2 separate regions of the Homo sapiens genome follow, and region 1 is linked to region 2. Evidence: fine-mapped expression QTL. A gene starts in region 2. The other region holds a variant in brackets. All regions are shown on one strand. Distances are between the middles of the regions. Region 1 overlaps HSF1 (heat shock transcription factor 1). Region 2 holds the start of DGAT1 (diacylglycerol O-acyltransferase 1).

What was found. PIP is the estimated chance that this variant, and not a neighbour inherited with it, causes the effect.
Region 1: its variant is the best candidate, but not a certain one, in a credible set for the expression of DGAT1 in whole blood (TOPMed, PIP 0.57).

The regions. Positions count from the first base shown.
Region 1 is chr8:144,297,688-144,300,587 of GRCh38, forward strand. All of the region lies in intron 1 of HSF1 (heat shock transcription factor 1), which reads left to right. Among named protein-coding and RNA genes, the nearest start is that of HSF1, 7.5 kb to the left of the region's middle. The variant G/A (reference allele first, on the strand shown) is at 1,530.
Region 2 is chr8:144,325,145-144,328,044 of GRCh38, forward strand. It overlaps DGAT1 (diacylglycerol O-acyltransferase 1), which reads right to left and starts at 1,708. Exons shown (of 17, transcript NM_012079.6): 1 at 1,293-1,708. The coding sequence starts at 1,492. RefSeq lists silencers at 1,335-1,404, 1,415-2,134.

The DNA.
Region 1 (2,900 bases), 27 kb before region 2:
TATACTCCCGGGACCCGGAGAGGGAACAGCCGGCCAGCCGAGCCCAGGAGCCCAGATCACCGGTCAGCAGATACAGCTTTGACTTGGCAGGAGGCTGGAACAAGAGGCTTGTGGCCTGGGCTGTGGGGCCACCTTGTAGAATACGGCACTGTTCACGTTTTGGGCCAGGGAGCCCTTTGAGAAGATACTCAGAGACACAGACACTTTCTATGTAAGGTGTCCCTACAGGCAGGATCTCACACACATTTCAGGTCCTTCACAGTGCTGCAGAAAATGAGGCCACAGGCTCCAAGTTTACTGCAAGCTGCGGGGTTTGCTGACACCTACACTTCTCAGCGTGTGGCATCTCGCACCAGCCAGGGGCCTCCCATTTCCAGTGGCAGGTTTTCGTGATATCCAGTTATGACCGGTGACTCCTCCAAGAGGTGCCTGTGGTCAGCAGAGGAGGGACCTTGTTCCACTGAGGCAGGAAGATGAGAGAGACACTGGGTTCTCTGATGGGTTCACCAGCAGACCCTGTGAAATTCATAATGGCCCCTAAGGTAGGGGTTGCCTGACATGTTCAACTTGGATTTAACCCTTAAGGCATAAGAAGCCGCTGAAAATGTTCAGACGTTACAAAACTAGGGCCGGGCACGGTGGCTCACGGCTGTAATCCCAGCACTTCGGGAGGCTGAGGCGGTTGGATCACCTGAGGTCAGCAGTTCAAGACCAGCCTGACCAACATGGTGAAACCCCGTCTCTACTAAAAATACAAAAAAAAAAAAAATAGCCAGGCGTGGTGGTGCGTGCCTGTAATCCCAGCTACTCGGGAGGCTGAGGCAGGAGAATCACTTGAACCTGGGATACAGAGGTTGCAGTGAGCCGAGATTGCGCCGCTGCGCTCCAGCCACAGAGCGAGAAACTGTCTCAAAAAAAAAAAAAGAAAGAAAAGAAAAAACCGGCGAGGACTGAGGTAAACCACAAAATTGTCCAGGCTTTTTATGTGGAGGGAATTTGCAGACTCACGTGCAGAGAACCCAACAAACCCAGACTTTGGGGCAGCTGAGGCAGCTAGAATGTGTGGGGTGTGGTACCAGAAAGGAAGGAGTTACGCCCAAAACAAAGAGCTCCAGCAATCTGCGCGTGAGCCCGCTTGCATCTTGGGTTGGATCCGATTTGCTGGTGCACACAGTGAAACCTCGTGGAGCTGGACCAAGAGCAACTTGAAGGGGAAGAGTAAGTGTAAGGGGACAGATGAGCAGGACTCACACAGGGCCGTGGTTATTTCAGTTCCCACCAGCCAGAGTATAGAAGCCACTTTAAATACAAGGAGCTTTCATGACACCTTAGAGGAAACACAGCTTGGAAGTGGCGCAGAATAAGCTGCAGAGGAAAGGCCACTCCAATGCCGTGGAAACAAGTGCAAGGCAAGCCCTGGAAACACCACTGCCTGCTAGCACGGAGTACACACAGCACTCTTGAGAGAAGGAAGCCAGGCGAAGTGGCTCACACCTGTAATCCCAGCACTTTGGGAGGCCGAAGCAGGC[G/A]GATTATCTGAGGTCAGGAGTTCAAGACCAGCCTGGCCAATATGGTGAAACGCCGTCTCTACTACAAAAAATTAGCCATGTGTGGTGATGGGCGCCTGTGGTCCCAGCTACTTGGGAGGCTGAGGCAAGAGAACCACATGAGCCCGGGAGGCAGAGGTTGCAGTGAGCCGAGATCGCATCACTGCACTTCAGCCTGGGCAACAGAGCAAGACTCCTTCTAAAAAAAAAAAAAAAAATTCACGTCCAGAATCTAATCAGTCATGGGCAGACAAGCCAAAGCAGAAAAATGGACTTGTCACTGGAGGGGGTCCAGTAGCAGGCCCAGTTTTGATAGGATTAGCCAACAAAGACAGTAAACAATTATAAAAATGTTCCCTGTGCTCAAAGAAATAACACAAAAATGTGACTGAGGGCTGGGCGTGGTGGCTCACACCTGTAATCCCAGCACTCTGGGAGGCCGAGGCGGGTGGATCACGAGGTCAGGAGATCAAGACCATCCTGGCTAACATGGTGAAACCCCGTCTCTACTAAAAATACAAAAAATTAGCCGGGCGTGGTGGCGGGCACCTGTAGTCCCAGCTCCTCCAGAGGCTGAGGCAGGAGAATTGCTTGGACCCGGGAGGTGGAGCTTGCAGTGAGCCAAGATCGTGCCACTGCACTCCAGCCTGGGTGACAGAGCGAGACCCCGTCTCAAAAAATAAGAAAACATGACTGAGAAATGGAAGATACAGAAAAGAAGCAAGTTGGACAAAATGTCACTGGAACTAATCTCCCAAGTAGAAGAATTCCACATTGTTTACTGAGATAGTTCCCCTTCGAGGAGGTGATGCTTAACTCCTCACTCCAGAAGCCTGGGCTTTACCTAGTGACCCTCTTCCAAAGAGCAGAGCACAGAAGCAGGAGGAGCAGCTTTCCAGTGGAGACCTCCAGCAACACAGCCTCACCAGGGACCATGCTCACCATCAGCAGTGACATGCGTATCACTGTTGTGTACTCTTTTTTTTTTTTTTTTTTTTTTTGAGACGGAGTCTCGCTCTGTTGCCAGGCTGGAGTGCAGTGGCACAATCTCGGCTCACTGCAACCTCCACCTCCCAGGTCCAAGCAATTCTCCTGCCTCAGCCTCCCACGAAGCTGGGACTACAGGCACCCGCCACCTCGCCCGGCTAATTTTGTTGTATTTTTAGTAGAGATGGGGTTTCACCGTGTTAGCCAGGATGGTCTCAATCTCCTGACCTCGTGATCCGCCCACCTTGGCCTCCCAAAGTGTTGGGCGCGTCAGCCACCGCGCCCGGCCTGTTGTGTACTCTTGATAGGATGATGAGAACAGCACTCTACCTCTTTGATCTTCCTCCCAAAAACATACGTAACCCC
Region 2 (2,900 bases):
GAGAGGGTAACTCCAGGAGCCACACCTCCTTTTCAGGTAGGAGGTGCCTAGGCCAGCCTCCCTCACCAGCACCCCAGGCCCACAGCAGGCAAGCACCCCTCTCAGGAGGGCCACCCTCCTCCCCACGGCCCCTTCAAGGCCTCCGTGCCCGACCTTTGTCCATGTTGCTCCATGCCTGACTCTCGCTGAGGTTATCTTATCTCCCAGATGAACTGAGCACCCTGAGGGCCACGACAGTGCCTGCCCTCCCCCAACCCCCTCCCCATGGTGCCCCGTGAAGGAAAGCTCTGTTCTTGCTCACTGAGAGAGCAAATCATTGCCAACTACATGTCCAAAATCAGCCCACTTCTGCCTTGATAACCTCTAGGCCCTCAGCTGCTCTCTAAAACAAAGCCCTGAGGGCCCCTGGGCCAGGGTAAAGGCCATAAAGGGGGGATGGAGGGTGGCAAGGGGATTGCTCAAGGCCAGCTTGGTGGAGGAAGCCAATGCCCAGGCTGGCCAAGTCCTTCCCATCGGCCATGGTTCTCTCCCTCCACCCCTCTCTGTCAGTCATCCAGCTGAGCAGGGCACACGCCTGCAGGTGTGTCCACCACCCCCATACCCCACTCCCCACCTGGAGGATGGAAGTCCCAACACAGAACCCAACTCTCTGTCCCTACAACAGACGCTGGCTCTGGCAACATCGGCAGGGCTCCAGGCCAGCCTAACCACTGGAGCAATGAATGGGCCACGCAGCCACTCTCAGAAGGGTCTGCAAGGACAAGAACGCCTCTAACACTGCCCCTTGTCCGGGGCAGCTGCTGATTCCCCTGTCCTCGGACAGGCCTGGGCTCCTCTGGCCCCCTCCCTGGCAGGCCAGCCCTCCTCTGGGAGCCTTTCCTACCCGCAAGGCACCGCTCATAGCACCAAGAAGGAACCTATCACCACAAACTGCCCAGATCTTATCTGACTCCTTCCATATAAGGGGACACTGTCCAGGGCCGGGCCCCCACCAGCCCGCCCCTCGAAAAGCTCCTCAGGAGCCCCTGAGGATGCACAGACCCAAGAGGATCTGGATGCGGGACACCTGCCGGCTCCCCTCTGCCTGGCCAAGGCCAGCTCCAGAGCCCCTACCCAGTGACCTTGTCAGGTGACTCTCCCCAAGCCTCAGTTTCCCCACAGGGCCCATAGGGCACACCGATCCCCGCTTAGCCCAGGGCCCATGTTCTCGGACTCGGAGCTCGCGCTTCGGCCAACCCCGGAAAGTCGCGGGGCCCTTGGGTCAGAGGTTAGGGGGTCAGGCGCTCCGCTACCTCAGCTCCCAGTGGCCGCTGCCCACGCCGGCGTCTCCGTCCTTGTTGGGGGCCGGGGCTGGCGCGTCCCCCGCGGCTCCCACGTCGGGGCCCGCAGCGGCGTCCCGCACCTCCTCTTCCGCCGCCGCAGGCCCGCCGCCGCCGTGGCTCGAGGGCCGCGACCCTGTCCTCCGGCGCCGGGAGCTGCCGCGGTCGCCCATGGCCTCAGCCCGCACCCGGCCGCAGCCAAGCGTGGGCCCGCCGGGTTCGTAGCGCCCGAGGCGCGCGGCCCCACCTCCGGGCCCTAGACAACGGCCGCCACTGCCCCCTGCCGGCCGCCGTAGCCCGGGTGACCGCCTCACCAGCGCGTTCAACCCGCCCGCGTCGGGCCCGTCGGCCTCAAGGACAACGGCTGCGTTGCTCCGGAGCCGCTAACTAATGGACGGCCGCCTCTCTCGTCCATTTGTAGTCCGCGGCCGACCTGAGGCGGGGCCTGGAGAGGCTGACGGGGCGCAGGGCACCCTGGGAGTCGTAGTCGCCGCGGGCGCGCCGGCGCAGAGCACCCTGGGAGTCGTAGTCGCCGCGGCCGCACCGGCGCAGAGCACCCTGGGAGCCGTGGCAGCTCCCAGGGCCGGGGCTGCGGGCCGCAAGTGCGCGCAGCGGGAACGGACCTTGCATCGCTCCCGCGTGGTCCCGGGGTCCTGTCCGGCCCCACGGAGCGGGATGGTCCGCTGAGGGGTGCGCTGGGCCCCGACTTCCTGGCCGCTGTGCGCCCGCCCCTCGTCCCACTTGTGTACACACGGGGTCTCGGCGAGTCACTCCGGGCAATCATTTAGGAAGCGCCTAGTGCGCCACGGTCCAGCTGTCCGGGCCGGTGTCCGCGGCGGCTCGCGTCGCCCGCCACCCAGCGCGTTGGTTTCTGCGCACGCAGCTTACAGTAACGTCCCTGGCGCGCTTCTGCTCCGCGAGCCCTCTGGTTACCCCGGCAGGAACCTGCTTTTCTTCGCCTTAGGGGGACGTCAGACAAGGGCCAGGTCAGAAGACCAAGCTGGAGAAATGCACCAGGCCCTGCGTCACCGGGACGCCTGCCTTGCACGCGACTCCCAGGCTCTCCACCTCCCCGCCTGCAGAGCCCGGCGAGAGGAGGGCGAGGGCGAGGGCGAGGGCGCAGGCCCCTTGGTGGTGTCTTCTCAGCCCACCCACTCTCTCCACAAGGAGCTCCACGTCCCTCAACTCTCAGGGCCTCCCAGTTTCCAACGTGGGCCAGCCTCTCCAGGATGTCAGAAGTCTGGGCCGCTGGATCGCCGGGACTCAAGAGGCTTCTGTGCATTTGCACGGCCTGTGCAACCGCCCTGTTGTTTTTTGTTTTCTTTTTTCTTTTTTTGAGACAGTCTCACTCTGTCGCCAGGCTGGAGTGCAGTAGCGCGATCTCGTCTCACTGCAACCTCCACCTCCTGGGTTCAAGCGATTCTCCTGCCTCAGCCTCCCGAGTAGCCAGGACTACAGGCGCGTGCCACCACGCCCAGCTAATTTTTCTGTTTTTAGTAGAGACGGGCTTTCACCATATTGGCCAGGCTGGTCTCGATCTCCTGACCTCGTGATCCGCCCACCTCGGCCTCCCAAAGTGCT